Linked DNA regions of Homo sapiens: all the other regions are linked to region 3. The links come from fine-mapping of genetic effects on gene expression. A gene starts in region 3. Each other region holds a variant in brackets. All regions are shown on one strand. Distances are between the middles of the regions.

Region 1 (5,229 bases), 300 kb after region 3:
TGGGGTGGATTATGATGTTGGCTGCTGCTAACTGAAACTAATTAATTATGAGAAGAAGCCCCCAAGACCCAGTGTTACTTCTTCTCAGGACTATCTATCAGTGCGAGAGAGGGAGAAATATTTATGCACCAGCTCCTGTCTATCACTGGTCTGATGCTTGCCCTACCTCTTGTACTTCTGGGTTATACATGCATGGGTGTGGGTGCATAAAGAAGCCCCATGTAGAAGTTGCAGAAGTCCTAGGCAGGAGGTGAGAAGTGCATGGAACGGGCGGGAATCAGGCACTATCAGACTGCACCTGTCTGAAATTGATCCAAGCCCACAGAAAGCTGGTTACCAGAGCAGCAGCAGAAATAAGAGAAATAATTAGTAGGTAAGATTGAGAGGGACCAAGGGAGTAAGAAATGCTTGATAAAAAACATTATTAAAAGAATATTTCAAAGAAAGCTTTTTTGCGTGAAAGTCAGTATCTACAGTTGTGCTTTTCCTCAAATAATGTAGTAATATTTCCACTTACTTTGAAGAATGTGTCCGAGACGCTCGCAGATTAAATCTTTTTGAGATAAATACAATAAAAATGAGAATTACAAGGACAGAGAATGAAATAGAGCTTCTGAAGAAGAAAATAACTGACCTGACAAAATATAATGAAGCTCTGGGGTAGGTATTCTTATATTCAGTATTTGAGGGAGCAGGGGTCTGAGGCTGGAGTGGGAAAATTGTCGGGAGGGGTTTACTCTCTGATCTGAACTGTGGCAGGGCGAGTTGAGAGGTGAAGATGGCTTGTAGGAGATGGCCCAGGCTGATGGGGTAGGGAAGGTGGTGGCTACAGAGGACTGAGGAGGAGAGCAGAAAATCTTCAACCACAGCAGCCAGGAGGCTTGTAATATTTCAGAGGCAATCCAGCTTCCTAGCAGCAACTACTGTTTGTAAATCACACACTACCTCTAATGCTACATCCAAAGGTAGACACACAATGGGTTTAGTTTCCATTTTTGTAGAATTAAGTTTACAAACCCCCACCACCAAAGTAAGAAATCTTGCAGGGATTATATTGTAAATCTAATGTCAAACCAGACCTATTGTATCTAGTTCAGTTCATTGAAGATATTTAGTCATATTTGTAATCCACTGAAGGACTGAGGATGAGGCTGGTTCCCAGGACAGGGTTCCAGATTGTGTCTGTAATTAAATGAGATAATATATGAAACTGCCTATAGCTCAAGATCTGACACCTCTTAGTGAGCCTCATTTTCTCCATCTGTGAAATGGGGATCACAACTCTTAACTTTGCTAGCTCATGAAAGGAAGAGATATATTCTGAAAGATAGGCCCCCTTGAAGAATTACCCCTATGAGAAAATTTGATAAATTTTAATAAATATCATAAATATCAGCATGTTAGTTTCCAGAGTGAGAAATGTTCACAAAGAGCCCTTATCATAGGGGAAAAAAAGTCTTCTTGGGAATCCAAAATAATCAGAGGGTTGCCTGGTGTCCCAGATAATAAACATCAGAAATCAGCTAGAGACCTCAAGACCCAGGGACATTGATCCCAAACCAGGCTCTCAGAACACCTGTGCTGGGAGATGCTCCACAAAAGAGAAAGTTCATGATTACATAAGTTTGAGAAATACCACATACTCTAATCCCTGTTGGGGATTCACAATACAGATTTGTGTGTGGTGCGTGCTAGCCACCATGGCCAGAGCCTGCTACATAAACTAGACTATTCCTAAACTAATAGCAAGAAAAATAATACCCAGGCTAGATATTTATATCAACCGGTCAGCAACATCACATTCCTATAGACCAGTGATTCTCTAACTTGAGCTTGCATCAGAATCATCTGGAGGGCTTGTTAAAACACAAATTACTGGGACTTGCTTCCAAAATTGCTGATTTAACAGATCTGGGAGGAGTGCGGTGGGGATAAGAATTTGCATTCCTGACAGGTGATGCTGCTGCTGCTGGTCCTGACCACATTGGGAGAACCACTGCTCTAGACAAATCTTTACGGAAAGGCAATAACAAACAGAAGGTGGTGGCAGGTGTGTTGGCATCATCAAGCTACAATCATTTGTTGCATCATTTTTTCAAAGAGAAATGAATATCAAAGTGTTCACAGACTCTGACAGGTGGTGGGTATGTCTCCTGTCCTGGGCAAATTTCAAAAACTAGATACAGACAGAGCAGCTGTTTGAATGTGTTTTCCTGAGGCTCCACACTGTGTTTGTGAGTGTTCTTTTCTTCTCAGCCCATCACAACACACCTAGTGAGGTTTTTTGATTTCACTTATTTTGCTTTGTTTCCCCGAGGCTCCAGTCCTCAAGTTGATTCATTCTTAGAAGGCTTCCTCTGCTGCATCCACAAAGCACCCATTATCTGACCACCTACTGAGCCTCTCACCTAGACTTCTTTTTATTGCATTTCTTTTGTGGAGTTTGACCTCTGAAAGCAAACTTCCCAGCAGCCTGCTTTTATTTTCCTGAGCCTTCAAACACAATTCCTCTGAAACTCACTAGCCTTGAGGACTAGCAAAAGGAAAAGGGTCTTTACATTGCAGGAGCTTTTAAAAAGGAAAATAGAGAAATGGCACCAATTGTCCCTTTTGTAAACCTTTTGTTGTTAGCCTCTGGGTAGACAAAATCTTAAGGTCTTCCTCAGACAATCTTAAGGTCTTCCTTAGATGGACACCGCCCGCAATGGATGTGTGAGGTTAATGACTCCTATTGAGCTCAGAGTTGGCTACAGCTGGGAGAAGGTAAGAGGGCTCAAATTAGGTTTCAGGCATCCTTCAAACAGTAAAGATAGACTCTTTTCTTTCCCTAGTTTCTATCCAGAGGAAGGTGAGCTTTCTGTTGGGCCCTGCCTGCAGGGCTATAGCATCCAGGGTGGCTGGAGATGTGATGAGATTTCTCTTTCTTTA[G/C]CTTAACAGCCTATCTCAGGATGATAAGATAGACATGATGACAATACATATCAAAACACTCATCTGGCCAGATCCCATTCAGATCCTGTTCAAAATTACTTTTGAGTCATTGTATACTTTAACCCAAAATACCCTGTGGTCACTACCTGGCATCTGGGGACGGGTGGGGCGAGGCAAGGCCACGTGACATTCAAAAGTGGTAAAAGTTGCAAGGTTGATGCTTGTTTTGTGTTTCCTTCTGTCCTCATCTCAATTTTTTTTTTTTAATTTCAGACAGAGACTCACTCTGTCACTCAGGCTAGAGTGCAGTGGCATGATCTCGGCTCACTGCAACCTCTGCCTCCCAGGTTCAAGCAATTATCCTGCCTCAGCCTCCCGAGTAGCTGGGATTACAGGAGCACGCCACCATCCCCGGCTAATTTTTGTATTTTTAGTAGAGACAGGGTTTCACCATGTTGGCCAGGCTGCAATCTAACTCCTGACCTCTTAGGTGATTTGCCCACCTCGGCCTCCCAAAGTGCTAGGATTACAGGCATGAGCCACTGCACCTGGCCTTCAACCAAGTTTAGACAATCATAAACACAGTCATAAAATAAGTATTCCTTACACTTTTCCTCTTGCTGAGGGCTCTTCTCACCACACAGACTATTCCTTTCTTAGGAGCTGTGCTTCTCACTCTGTGAGCAATTCTTTCCTCCCAGGGAGAAGCAGGAAGAGCTAGCAAGGAAGCATGCAAGGTTTGTCCTGTCACTCAACCAAACTATGGAGAAAAAAGCCACCACCACTGTTTACATAAATGAGACTTATACCAAAATAAACTTGAAGAGAGAAGACATAGCATTGCAAAAAAAATGTATTCAAGAGGCAGAGGAGCTAATGGAAAAAGAAAGGGCAGAATATCTAATAAGAAAACAAGAGTTGACTGCACAGGTAAGTGGCATGATTTATTCTTTAAAATACAATAATGTATAGAATCTGGAGCAGGAAATGGGAAATAATTTATTTGTCCTCAAGGCTGGCAAGCAGCCTCTGTGGTATCTTCTGTGAACGCGCTGGGAAAACGGGATGAGCGGGAGACTCAAGGACACTTCTGCTCTTGGGGAAGACATTTGATTGGTAGCAGCATCTCAGTTCATGGGTAAGAATATAAGTGACAGGATTTGTAACACTGGGGTGTCCCCTTGCTTATATGCTGCCATACAGGGACAAGGAATAGGCTACCATCTTATCCAGTTGCCTTTGATAACCCTGAGACTGTGTCTGTATGGACAGGACTAGGGTATTCAGATAGGGCACCAGCCCAGCCCTGCTGTTCCTGATAAATGAATCAGAGAGAGCAGCAGCATGCAGTGGGGCCAGGCAGAACTGAGGGCTTTAAAGAGAAAACAATGTTTCGAGAGCAGCAAAATTTGTGAGGGTGGGGGAGGGATAACTACTGCATCTTTTTCTGCCACTGCAGGAGCTGAACTGCCTGCTGTGCCATGTTAATTAAAATTCAGCATCAGATCTGTTATGATTGTTTCTTCCTTGTTCTGCTCTGGTTGACTGGGGGAGAGGTGGTTTTGATAAGAGGGTGACATCGTTCATTAGGGTCTAACAAGTGGCACTGTGATAAAATGGTAAGAAGTTTTCCAGGATTACAAGCTGCTCTGTCTTTGATGATTTTGTTTACTCTGTGTTTAGCTGGTTTTATTTCCCATTAAATAATGTGAATTTAGATTCCCAGATAATTTCTTCAATCCTTCCTTCGACTCTTCTTGTTTGCTTAGTACGTTGTAAATCCGGTCACCACTGCTGTGGTGATTTACTATTAAATCACTACCGTGGCAATTACTTTTATAATTAGTTATTAACAATCATTGTTAGTATTGCTCTTACAAATTTACTATTTCAATATTCAATAATTACAGTTTGGCCTTTGTGGCTCATGCTTTTTCCTGTGATACTGCAAAATAAGGAAACCCTGGTTTTTAGGTTTATTTTTTACTTATTACTATACTTGAATATGTTATACTTAGATTAAATATGAATTAGGTTGACACTGTTTTTAAAAGATTTTTTAAACTTTGTTGTGCTAATAGGCTTTTTAAATTGGTTTCTTATGCTTGTCACTATAGATTAATGAATTTGAAAATACCCGTGAAGTAAAGAGAATGGAGACTTATCAAAAGAAGAAAGAATTGGATAAATTACAAACTAAAATGTCAAAAATAAAAGAAACAGTTACTGTTTCCGCAGCGGTAAGAAAGAATAAACTATATATATTTTTAAGCCTTATCTAGGCACCTCAATAAAAAAGGA
Region 2 (5,229 bases), 71 kb after region 3:
ACATTAAATGGAACACAACTGAGATGAGATATTTCCATACTGAAATATACTTGGGGAGTAATTAATAAGGTGGAAAGACATATTAATATGTCTGAGAAGTGTGATGAATTTTGTTTGACCCCAAACGTATTTGACTGGGATACTTTTTTCCTGTGTTACCCACGAACACAGATTTTTACATGGAACAGTACAGGAAGAACTGAAAATTGTGGAATTTTCTCTAAGTATAGAAGACTTTAACTTATCATAGTCCATCTTCTAATAATATATCTCTCATGTATAGCGTTATAATCTTATAAGAGTATACTTCCATTCCTCCTTCATATCTTTTGTGCTTTTGTTGAGAATACAGTCTTGCTATTGTTCCTTCAGCCAGTTATCTGTAGTTACATATATATGAAATTTCATAATTTATCTTCTTCCTGCAGAACTGTCTATAACTTTTCTCCCATTGCCTAGCTGCTGATAGTGATTCTCCTTGCTATAGTTTGTCTGAAATGATGGCTTTATTATGCCATTATTTTTGAGATATGTTTTCACTGAGTATAGAATTTTATATTGACAGTTAACTATTTTTTTCTTTCAGTATGTTAAATATGCTATTCTGTTGTCTTCTGGCTTGCATAGTTTCTGATAAGAAGGCTGTTATAGTTCTTATCTTTCCTCCCCTGTCTGTAATGATTCTTTTTCCTTGTCTTGAAGATTTTGTCTATGTCTTTAGTTCTCAGCAGACTGACTATGGTGTATCTAGACATATTGGTTTAAAAAAATTGTTTTACCTGCTTGGAGTCTCCTAGGGTTCTTGAATCAGTGATTTTTTGTCTTGATTAATTTTGGAAAGTTCTCAGCCGTTATCATTTAAAATATTTTCTGCCTTATTTTTGCTCTACCTTGTATTTCTGAGATTCTAATTACATGTATGTTACCTGTTTGATGTTGTCCCAGAGAGCTTGGATGCTGTGTTTTGTTTTTTCCTCCCCCATTCTTTTTCTATGTGTTCAGCTTGGACAATTTCTAGTTATTTATCTTTTAGTTCACTGATTCTTTCCTCAGTTGTGTCCAGTAAGCTGATGAGCTTTTTGAAGGACTTTTTTTTTTACATCTTTTATTTCCAGCATTTACATTAGAATATTAAAAAAATTTTTTACTCCTCTGGTGAAATTTCCTTTCTGTTCATTAATCTTTTATATTTTCTTCTAGATCTTTTATTATATTAATCGTAGTTATTTTAATCTCTCTGTATGATATTTCTGACATCTGTGTCACCTCTGAGTTTGATTCTACTGATTGCTTTATCTCTTGACAATGTTCTCTGTTTAAATAATTATTTTAAGATGTATTTTTGGCCCGGTGTGGTGGCTCACGCCTGTAATCCCAGCACTTTGGGAGGCTGAGGTGGGCAGATCACGAGGTCAGGAAATCGAGACCATCCTGGCTAACACGGTGAAACCCTGTCTCTACTAAAAATGTAAGAAGTTAGCCAGGCGTGGTGGTGGGCGCCTGTAGTCCCAGCTACTCAGGAAGCTGAGGCAGGAGAATGGTGTGAACCCTGGAGGCAGAGCTTGCAGTGAGCCGAGATCGTGCCACTGCCCTCCAGCCTGGGGGACAGAGTGAGACTCTGACTCAAAACAAAAACAAAAACAACAACAACAAAAAGATGTATTTTTGTGTTTCCTTTTAGTTTTGAATAAATGCCAAACATCAAAAAATAATAGAGAAAGAGGCAAATAGCATTTATGCCCAGAAATGAGCATACCCCTAATCTTATGTAAGGCTGTTAGGGTGGGGGTTTGAGTCAGTGTCTGGTTGAATTAGGCTGGGATTTTGTTTCTAGAGTTACCTTCATTGCCTCACAGGCTTCAAATTCCTCTCACAATGGGTTACTGTTACCTTCTGCTTCTGTGGTCATATAATGCCAGAAGGCTTTTCTCAATTTTCCTGCCTCACTCTCAGCTTCCAGCAGGCTCTGTATATCTGTGCCACGGAGGGGTTCTCTTTCCTTGCCCATCTTTCACCAGTAAATTAATTTTGCTTATTACTTTTTGCCAGGCTTATGGGGGTGGAGATAGGAATTCTCCCCATCTAGCTTTAGTTTTAGGTGAGTTCTCTGTGTCTAGATCTTAAAGGGAAGTCTTTTTCAGTGTTCATGCACCTCTACCTCTTTGTCTGTCAAACTCTGCCTTGTGTCTCTGGAAGCTCTTGAAAAGTACGGAATCCTCTCCCCCAGCCAACCCCAGCCCAGTGACTTACAGCTTTTTTTCCTAGGAGAGAAGAGTCTGTCAAAGTGGGCAGTATTTTTTGTTTGCCTCCCGGCACCTGGTCACGACCTGAATGCCTATGCCACCAAAGGACACTCTGCTCTCCTGCCCTTTTCCAAATATTTCTTGTGAGCACCAAATGAGAATCCATGGAGAAGAATGTGAACTCTC[C/T]ATGTGTCTGGGGTACCCAGTTATTCTAAAATTATGCATTAGCCCACATTTAAATTTGATTTATCATATTATGGTGGCTGTCTCTTTCTTCCATGCTCTATTAAAGGTGAAAGAATTCATGTGTCCCATCTCTCTAGGGAGGGCTTTTGACTTTGAAATTCAGTTCTCTTGGCTGCCTTATTACCTCAACTCTCTGATGGCCCTGAGAAAATTGATGATTTTGTAGATTATCCACATTTGCCTCAATGTTAAAAGGAGAGTGATGTTCTCCTGAAGCTTTCCACTTGTTAAGAAGCAGAATTCCATCCTACATGGTTATGGTGATGAGTGGAATTTGATGAGTATGGCTTGCCAGTTTATTCTCATTCTATAAGGTATTTTGTTTTTATTCAGACTAAGTGTACTATCCTTAGCCTTTTTTCTGAATGTCCTTTTAAAGAATTTTAAATCCTTTTCTTTCATCTCAAATCACGAGGTAATACCCTAACTTGCATGTAGCGAATCACGTGTTTAAAATAATACTACACTTGTTTGTGAAACCAAGTCATAATTCACTTGACCTAATTGTAGAGAAATGAATTAATACACTTTTAGAAAAATTCAGACATGATTGCTTGAAAAATCTGGCAATTGTTTTTCAAGAGATCTTAGCAAATCACTAACTGTTATGGGAGTGCTAAGAATCCTATATCATTTTAATAGTTTGAGTCACTTTTTAAGTCACTAATACTTGAAATAAATTTTTATCTGTAAATTTATTAACTTCAACACTGTGGTAAACAGAATAATGTCTCCCCACCCCCACCCCTGCTGTCACCAAATGATATCCATGTCCTAATCCCTGAAACCCGTTAATATTTTACATTATATGGCAAAAGAGATTTTGCAGAAGTGATTAAGCTAAGAATATTAAAATGTTGAGATTATCCAGGCGGGCCCAATGTAATCACAAGAGTCCTTAGATGAGGCAGGCAGGAAGATCAGAGTCAGGTAAGAGGATGTGACCATGGAAGCAGAGATCCTAATCAGAGAGAGAGAGAGAGATTGGGAGATGTTATGATGCTGGCTTTGAAGATGGAGAATGGGGCACAAGCCAAGGAATGTAGGCAGCTACTTTTTCTCTTAGAGCCTCCTAAAGAACCCATGCTACTAACCCCTTGATTTTAGGACCTTTTGAATTCCATAACTGTAAGGTAATAAATTTGTGTTGTTTAAGCCACTAAATCTGTGATAATTTGTTACAGTTATAGTAGCAATAGGAAATTAATATACAAGCTGATATAACTTGTATTAAGTTATAAGCTGATATAACTTGCCCAAATTCATGCAATTAGTCAGTGGTGAGCTATATCTGAACTCTGAGGCATATACCTCCAAATCTTAGAATAATATTGTACTTGTTTGTATAGCCAAGTCATAATTCACTTGACCTCATTGGAGAGAAATGAATTAACACATTTTTTGAAAAATTCAGACACATCAATTGCTTGAAAAACATAGTACAGTATATCTCTGGAATAAGGGGTGTTATATCCATTTGCCCAGGATAAGAGGATGCTAAGAATCATGACTCTGCTCTTTCTGTTAAAATGGATAATTTTTTATGAATCTATATCTGCTAAAATCACAAAATAAAATCCATTAAGCCCCTCAAGTGATATTATAAAGGACCAATGGCAGTGTTACTAACTAAACTCGTATTTGACTAAAAGTCTTTTAAAATGTTGGCATCACTGGGTCAACATTTCTTATGCTATGAAGACAAGTTGGATTTTAGCCTTTCAAACACTATAAACACTATTCCTCAATAGTGTTAACAAAGATGACGCTAGGCAAAATAATGAAACCAGCAGAATTTTATCTTTAATATGACTCTGGTACTTCTACTTCTTTATAAGGAATGAGTAAATAATGCTTTAAACCAAAGAAATAATTCTAATAATGAGAATTTCAGACTGTGAGTCCAGTCACAAGGGCAGATATTTAGTGGCATTCAGATGTTTTGGTATATCACCAATGTCCTGCCATGTAGGTAGCTACCTCTTTGACTATGCTGAGAAGCATCCCTGGAGTATTCTTTTTACTAAATAGTAGGTTCTGGTTACTGATTGCACAATGGACTTTTGAATAACTAAAGAGAAAGCTTTCTATATAGCTTTACAGGACAGAAGACTGCTAGATATTGCAGTGCCTTTTCAGAATCAGAATCCACTGGTTCCCCACTTTGACTCCTTTCAAAGCTGATCTTTTAATTGGCATAGGTTGCATTTGCAATACACATAACCCACTGGAATTAGGGAAACCAAGATTGTTGTTGGACAAAGGAATTTTTCCCATATTATTATCCCATACTCTCTGTGCTTATAGAAGTTGCTCAAAAATGGTGTACAGTGGTGGTGACGAAGATTTGTTTTGCATTTAGCAATAGTTTATTACATAGAATAAGAAGCTCAAACTGCTTCATAGAAAATAAATAATAAATCTTCCAAAGGAATCATCCATGGAAGCAAAGAGCTTATATTAATTCCAACAATGATGGAAGGAAAAGTTCTGAAAATTCATGTGATCCACTTGGAATTTGACTAAGTTATTCATAGATTATAATAATTTGCAATTGAGTTCATATATAACCTTAACATACCTGATCTTTTATTGATTAACTCAACAAACTTTTATTGAACCCCTACTTTGTGTGAGGCACTATTTTAGGCACTGTGGATATGAAGATAGACAGGATAAAATCGCCGCCTTCAGGGGCCCACAATCTAGTTGGTGAAAGAGATCAGTAAATTAACAGGTG
Region 3 (5,229 bases):
GCCCCAGAATCCCATTGCCGACTGTGTGTTTTGCCCATAAATCTTCAAATTAGTCAAGCTTTGTCAGTTCAGAGCGGTGCAAAATAAATAATATTAATAAACATGAATCATTTCAAGTCATAGCATAAACCTGAAAATTTCTTCCCCCAAATAGATAATTTTTATACATCCAAAGGTGGAGTCTAATAAGGAAAGTTAGTAATGAAAATTGCTAACACTGAAATCTTGTGCTCATCTCTTTTCAGCAGTGTAAAATAGAATACTTTATCAAAATGGAACTGTCAATAATGTTCAATTTCCTTTAACAACTACACTCTAAATAGATTTAACTGGCTATTTCCTTCACACATTCTCAATGAGAGTATTGATTAGTATGAAAGAAATTGACAAATAATTAGAATCATATCCCCAAACTTCCTATCTATTAATCATAAGGAAACACAGAGGCTTGCTTAGGTCTCCCAGTTTTTTAATGATGACTTTCATTCATGTTTCTCAGAGAAACAAAAGAATATACTTCATATTATTTTGTATGTAACTCCTTTGCATAGCAATTCTCAAATATTAGTATTCATCAATAACCACTTTAAGGTTATATCATTAGAATTGTCTATGTTCTTGTCTTGTTATCAGTAATAAAACCATGAGAAATTCCCATCTAGTATTTCTGATGCTTTAGGGAATACTAAGTAATAGATTTGAAAAAACTTACAAGTGCCCTCTAATTACAAGACAGGATTAAGCTCCATGGAAATACAGCAGTGGAATAAGCTTTTCAACTTAACGGTTTTTTAAATACACTCTTGTTTTCCCATGGAAAGATGTTTAAAAATCATTATGATTCATGATAACCAATTATTTTGTTGTTTTTGGATGAGATTATTTTTATAGATTTATTGAGTTATAACTGACAACACATTAAATTGTTCATATTTACAGTAAACAATAAGTTTTGACATATGTTTGCACCTGTGAAGCTATAACCACAATCTAGATAGTGAATATTTCCATCATGAGACATAATTTTGAGTATGTCAAAAATGTAAAATTTTGGTGACCATCAGATTTCCAGGGATATCTGGCTTCAGGAGGCCATATTTATTGTTTAGTGAATGATTTTTCTCTAATTTATTGTCATCTTTTGAACATTAGTGCACTAGCAGAACAAAAGATTAGGCAGACTCTGGGCTTTTTCATTTTAGCATTATTGAGGAGCACCTGAATGGTCCTGAAGTTGGCCTTTGAATATACCAATGGACAGGTATGAAATCCTCAAGATGCGCATGGTGGCCAAGAGTCCCACAGTCTCACAGTGTGTGCGGTACCGTCTGCGCCCACCTTTCCTAGAGAAGAAACAGCAGAAAAACCTATTCCTTCACCCTGTGTGTTGTGGTGAATCTTAGTTTTTAAAGGCACATTATTTTATTATATAAACAACTTGGGAACCAATAAAACACAAGACATTTGAAAAGATGGGTCTTCGTATGGGCACAACATATGATAAGGCAAGTCACTTTCCTCCTCTGAGTTTGGGTTTATTTGCTGACTATCTTCCATTTTATCACAGTGAACTGTAAAGAAAAAGATGCAAGCTTCATGGAATGTCCAAATTCTGAAATACAACGGACTGCACAGACAGCTTATGATTAGGATGGCCTTGGCTCAGTGTTTCTGAAAGCAAATGTACAGCTTTTGTCCTTGCCTATTGACACCCTGTTTGCCCTCAGGGCTGGTCAGGGTGAGATCTGTTAAGCTTTTTTTGGAGGCTGTCCTGATAACTCATTTCTTTACTCCACTATTTTCAGGCCCATTCTGGAAACGCAGGATTTAACCGCGGGGTTGCAGCTTCCCTGGTCTCCATCTGCCATCAGAACCCATCTCCACCCCTTCCCCGTTCAGACCTGTGTCCCCTCCACAACTCATACTGGTCACTCTCAGAACTGTGGCCCTGAGTTCTCTAGCTTTCCCTCTTTGCCTCGGGACCCAGGACACCAGTCGGGGCTTAACTTTCTCAGTTGGGAAGGCGACGCTGCTGGTGGCTGCTGCTACTTGCTGGTTCTTCCTTTTTTTTCCTCCCCAAACGAGAGGAAGATTCGAGTGGATTTGGCACATCCCCTAACCGGGGCCTGCCATTTGCAGGTTGGGGGCTGACGTGCCCAGGAGGACCCGGACCAAGCAGGCCATTTTCACCTGCGTAATAACAGGATTGGGAATAGCGAAGCAGCGGCGGCAGCAGCGAGTGGAGTAGGAGGAGGAGCGCAGGCAGCGGCCGCGGCGGGGCCGGAGGAAGAGGAGGGGGGAGAAGGAGGAGCTGAAGCGGGAAGAGCGGCAGGCAGCGGCTCGGCGGAGTTGCAGCAGAGGCGGCGGCGACGCTGAGACACCGCAGCTTCCCTGAGCGCCGAGTCCCTCCGGGGACAGCAGCAGGGAGCGCCCGCGCAGCCACCGAGCCTCTGCCCAGCCAAGCCGCCGTCGCCGCGCCGGGGGACCGCCAGCCATGGCCGCGCCGGGGGATCCGCAGGACGAGCTGCTGCCGCTGGCCGGCCCCGGGTCCCAGTGGCTCAGGCACCGGGGGGAGGGGGAGAACGAAGCGGTGACGCCGAAAGGGGCCACGCCGGCGCCGCAGGCTGGGGAGCCCAGCCCGGGGTTGGGCGCCAGGGCCCGGGAAGCGGCGTCGCGGGAAGCCGGCTCGGGCCCCGCCCGGCAGTCGCCCGTTGCCATGGAAACTGCATCCACAGGTAAGGCGGGCGCCGCTGCCCCTCAAATGGCGTCGGGGACCAGGGCCCCCCAGTCAGTCCCCTTCTGCGCGGCTCTCCTGGGCACCTGCCTCGCGCTTTCTGCCTTGAGCGCCGACCCCACCCCCGCGTCGCCACGGGCGACTGGGAATATTCGCGGGCTGGTAGAAAACAACAATTTTATTTTTCCCAAAGGCTCAGAAAAAGTCAAGATGCTTTTGATCCTTTTATTTCATTATCATGATTATTTCCGCTTTAAAAATTGTTCTCATAGGCAAACAGCAGCATTCTGGCTGCTGGCGAGTCTGGGTACAAGTTTCTCCCTCCTGCCAGGAGGCTCCGAGCTGTAGGGCCCGTTTGACAGGTTGTGGGGATTTTGGGGGGCGTGTTTGCGCGCAGTGTGCGCGCCGGCTACAGGAGATGCTGACAACCGAGCGGCGGGCAGGCCCGCGGCCCCTGGACCCGGCTCTGTCCAGGGCAGAGATGTGGCTGTAACTGCCCCTTACCCTTGCCCTCCACGAATCGCCACCACACCTTACTCCCCCCACATCCCTCCGCCTTTTCTCCCGCAGAAAACAAATCCCAGGGAGTTTGTCCCTAATTCGGGAGGCACAGCTTTGCAAGAGGGTTGGGTGCTGTGGCTGCCCCCGCCCAAAACCTGTATTTCGCCGCTGCCCGGATGGCCCCACCTTGCAGGGAGCATTGAAACTTCAAGTCCTAAGTGCGGCGGGCCTGGCTGTGGGTTGGAGGGCTTGGGTGGTGGTGAGTGGACGTGGTACAGTTTACCAGCAGTCTAAGCGCCCCCCCCCCCCCACCCCGGAAATTGCCCTGGGTTTGGCCATTCTTCGCCTGACGCCCTATTCAAAGTCTGAGCGCGCCAGTGTCCAGCGGGAGCCCAGGCCCCTGGCGCATCCTGGTCAAAGGATCCAGGAAGCGCGCTTTGAGGCTGCCGGCCTGGTTAACGCTGTTTCCAGGGAGAGGAAAGGGGATGCTGTGTGGTGCTCTTTCCTGAGAAAGCTTTGCTATGGTGGAGTGGGAGTTGTGTAGTTTTGGCAATGTAGAGCTAGAAGGCCTGGGGTGGGGGGTGCTCCCAGAGGAGGGGAAGGGGAGTGGGACTGGTGTGTGTGCTCTTGGTGGTTGATTTAAAGAAACCCCTTTTCGTAAGCTTCTCTTAAGGGTTATGTGGAATGTCTAAGGTAATCGTAATTAACTGCCCTGGTACAGAAGATCTGAGCTGGGGAAAAGAGGTTTGGAGAATGCGTTGAATAAAAATTGTCAATATCCTGAAAGGAAGAGAAAAAGTGGAGACCCTATATAAGAAAAAAGAAAAAGAAAGAAAGAAAAGTACTCAAAAGCCCCAACGCCAAACGCCAAAGGTTATATATTAATTATTATATCCCTAGGAGTGGGGGAGGATTTAAATCTAAGAATGGCTGCTCAGTCTCTCTTTCAACTTCTGCATCCAAGTGAAAACAAAACTCTTTATAATTGCAAAAGAAGATGGCAAATGATAATAGACAAAGGAAGGTAGTTTTTGTCTTTACCATTCTTTGTTGAGGATAGACTGCTCATAGTTCAGAATCTTTATCCACTGTAATCAAAGTAAATTGTTTCTTTATGAAACATTACCCACCTCCTATTAGTGCCACTAAGATTATGTGAACTAGAAAAAGGAAGCTAAGTGCCCCATGCTCAGTAACATATCCACAAAAGTTATTATATAGGAAATGCTTAGAATATATATTTGTGGGGTACAGTGTGATGTTTTGACATATGTCTGCATTGTCAAATGATTAGCTAACAAATCCATCATCTCATGTACTTTTTTTTTGTGGTAAAAGCGTTTAAAATTTACTCTTTTAGCAATTTCAAAATGTACAGTGCATTGTTACAGAAAGGTGGCTGTAGTAAATAACAATGCATTTTGCATTTTTAGTATTATTATTATAGAAATACCTTGCTTTATTGAATGTGTTTGGGGTTTTCTATCCTAGGCAACAAATATAGTAATAAAATCAAACATGATACTACGTTTGGATGGGAGAAGAATGAAGAAAGATGGAAGGAGCACATATTTTGCATATTTATATAGAAATTTTTTAGTTTATGATTGTGGCTAGAAGGAATTTCTGATATAGTTGTTGATTGGTTAATGTCTTAAATCTCTGTGTTTCTTATTAAGTAGACCGGATGTGCTGCTATAAGAGACTCAAACGCCAGAAATGCTGTATAAATAAATAACTAGATCTTAAAATTCCAAACAAATCTTGTCCAGCTTCCTGGTCTGTTATTTTGGCAGTTCTATTGCTATAAGCAAAGTTAGCAGGTGAGCCCTCAATTGTATCAGAGATGCCTATTAAGCACACTACTTTACACTGTATTTCTTAATTTACTTTTTTTTGGCTTATAAACAGAAATTTATTTTCTCACAGTGCTAGAAGCTGAGAAATCTAAGATCAAGGTAGATTTGGTGTCTGGTCAGGGTCTGCTTCCTGGT

What was found. PIP is the estimated chance that this variant, and not a neighbour inherited with it, causes the effect.
Region 1: its variant is the best candidate, but not a certain one, in a credible set for the expression of RTN1 in whole blood (TOPMed, PIP 0.63).
Region 2: its variant is the best candidate, but not a certain one, in a credible set for the expression of RTN1 in whole blood (GTEx, PIP 0.55).

Annotation. Positions count from the first base shown.
Region 1 is chr14:59,563,676-59,568,904 of GRCh38, reverse strand. CCDC175 (coiled-coil domain containing 175) reads left to right here. Exons shown (of 20, transcript NM_001164399.2): 4 at 525-660; 5 at 3,630-3,858; 6 at 5,046-5,168. Among named protein-coding and RNA genes, the nearest start is that of CCDC175, 11 kb to the left of the region's middle. The variant G/C (reference allele first, on the strand shown) is at 2,929.
Region 2 is chr14:59,796,815-59,802,043 of GRCh38, reverse strand. The region is part of intron 1 of RTN1 (reticulon 1); the gene reads left to right. Among named protein-coding and RNA genes, the nearest start is that of RTN1, 71 kb to the left of the region's middle. The variant C/T (reference allele first, on the strand shown) is at 2,430.
Region 3 is chr14:59,867,896-59,873,124 of GRCh38, reverse strand. RTN1 (reticulon 1) reads left to right here and starts at 2,349. Exons shown (of 9, transcript NM_021136.3): 1 at 2,349-2,735. The coding sequence starts at 2,495. RefSeq lists a silencer at 2,341-2,440.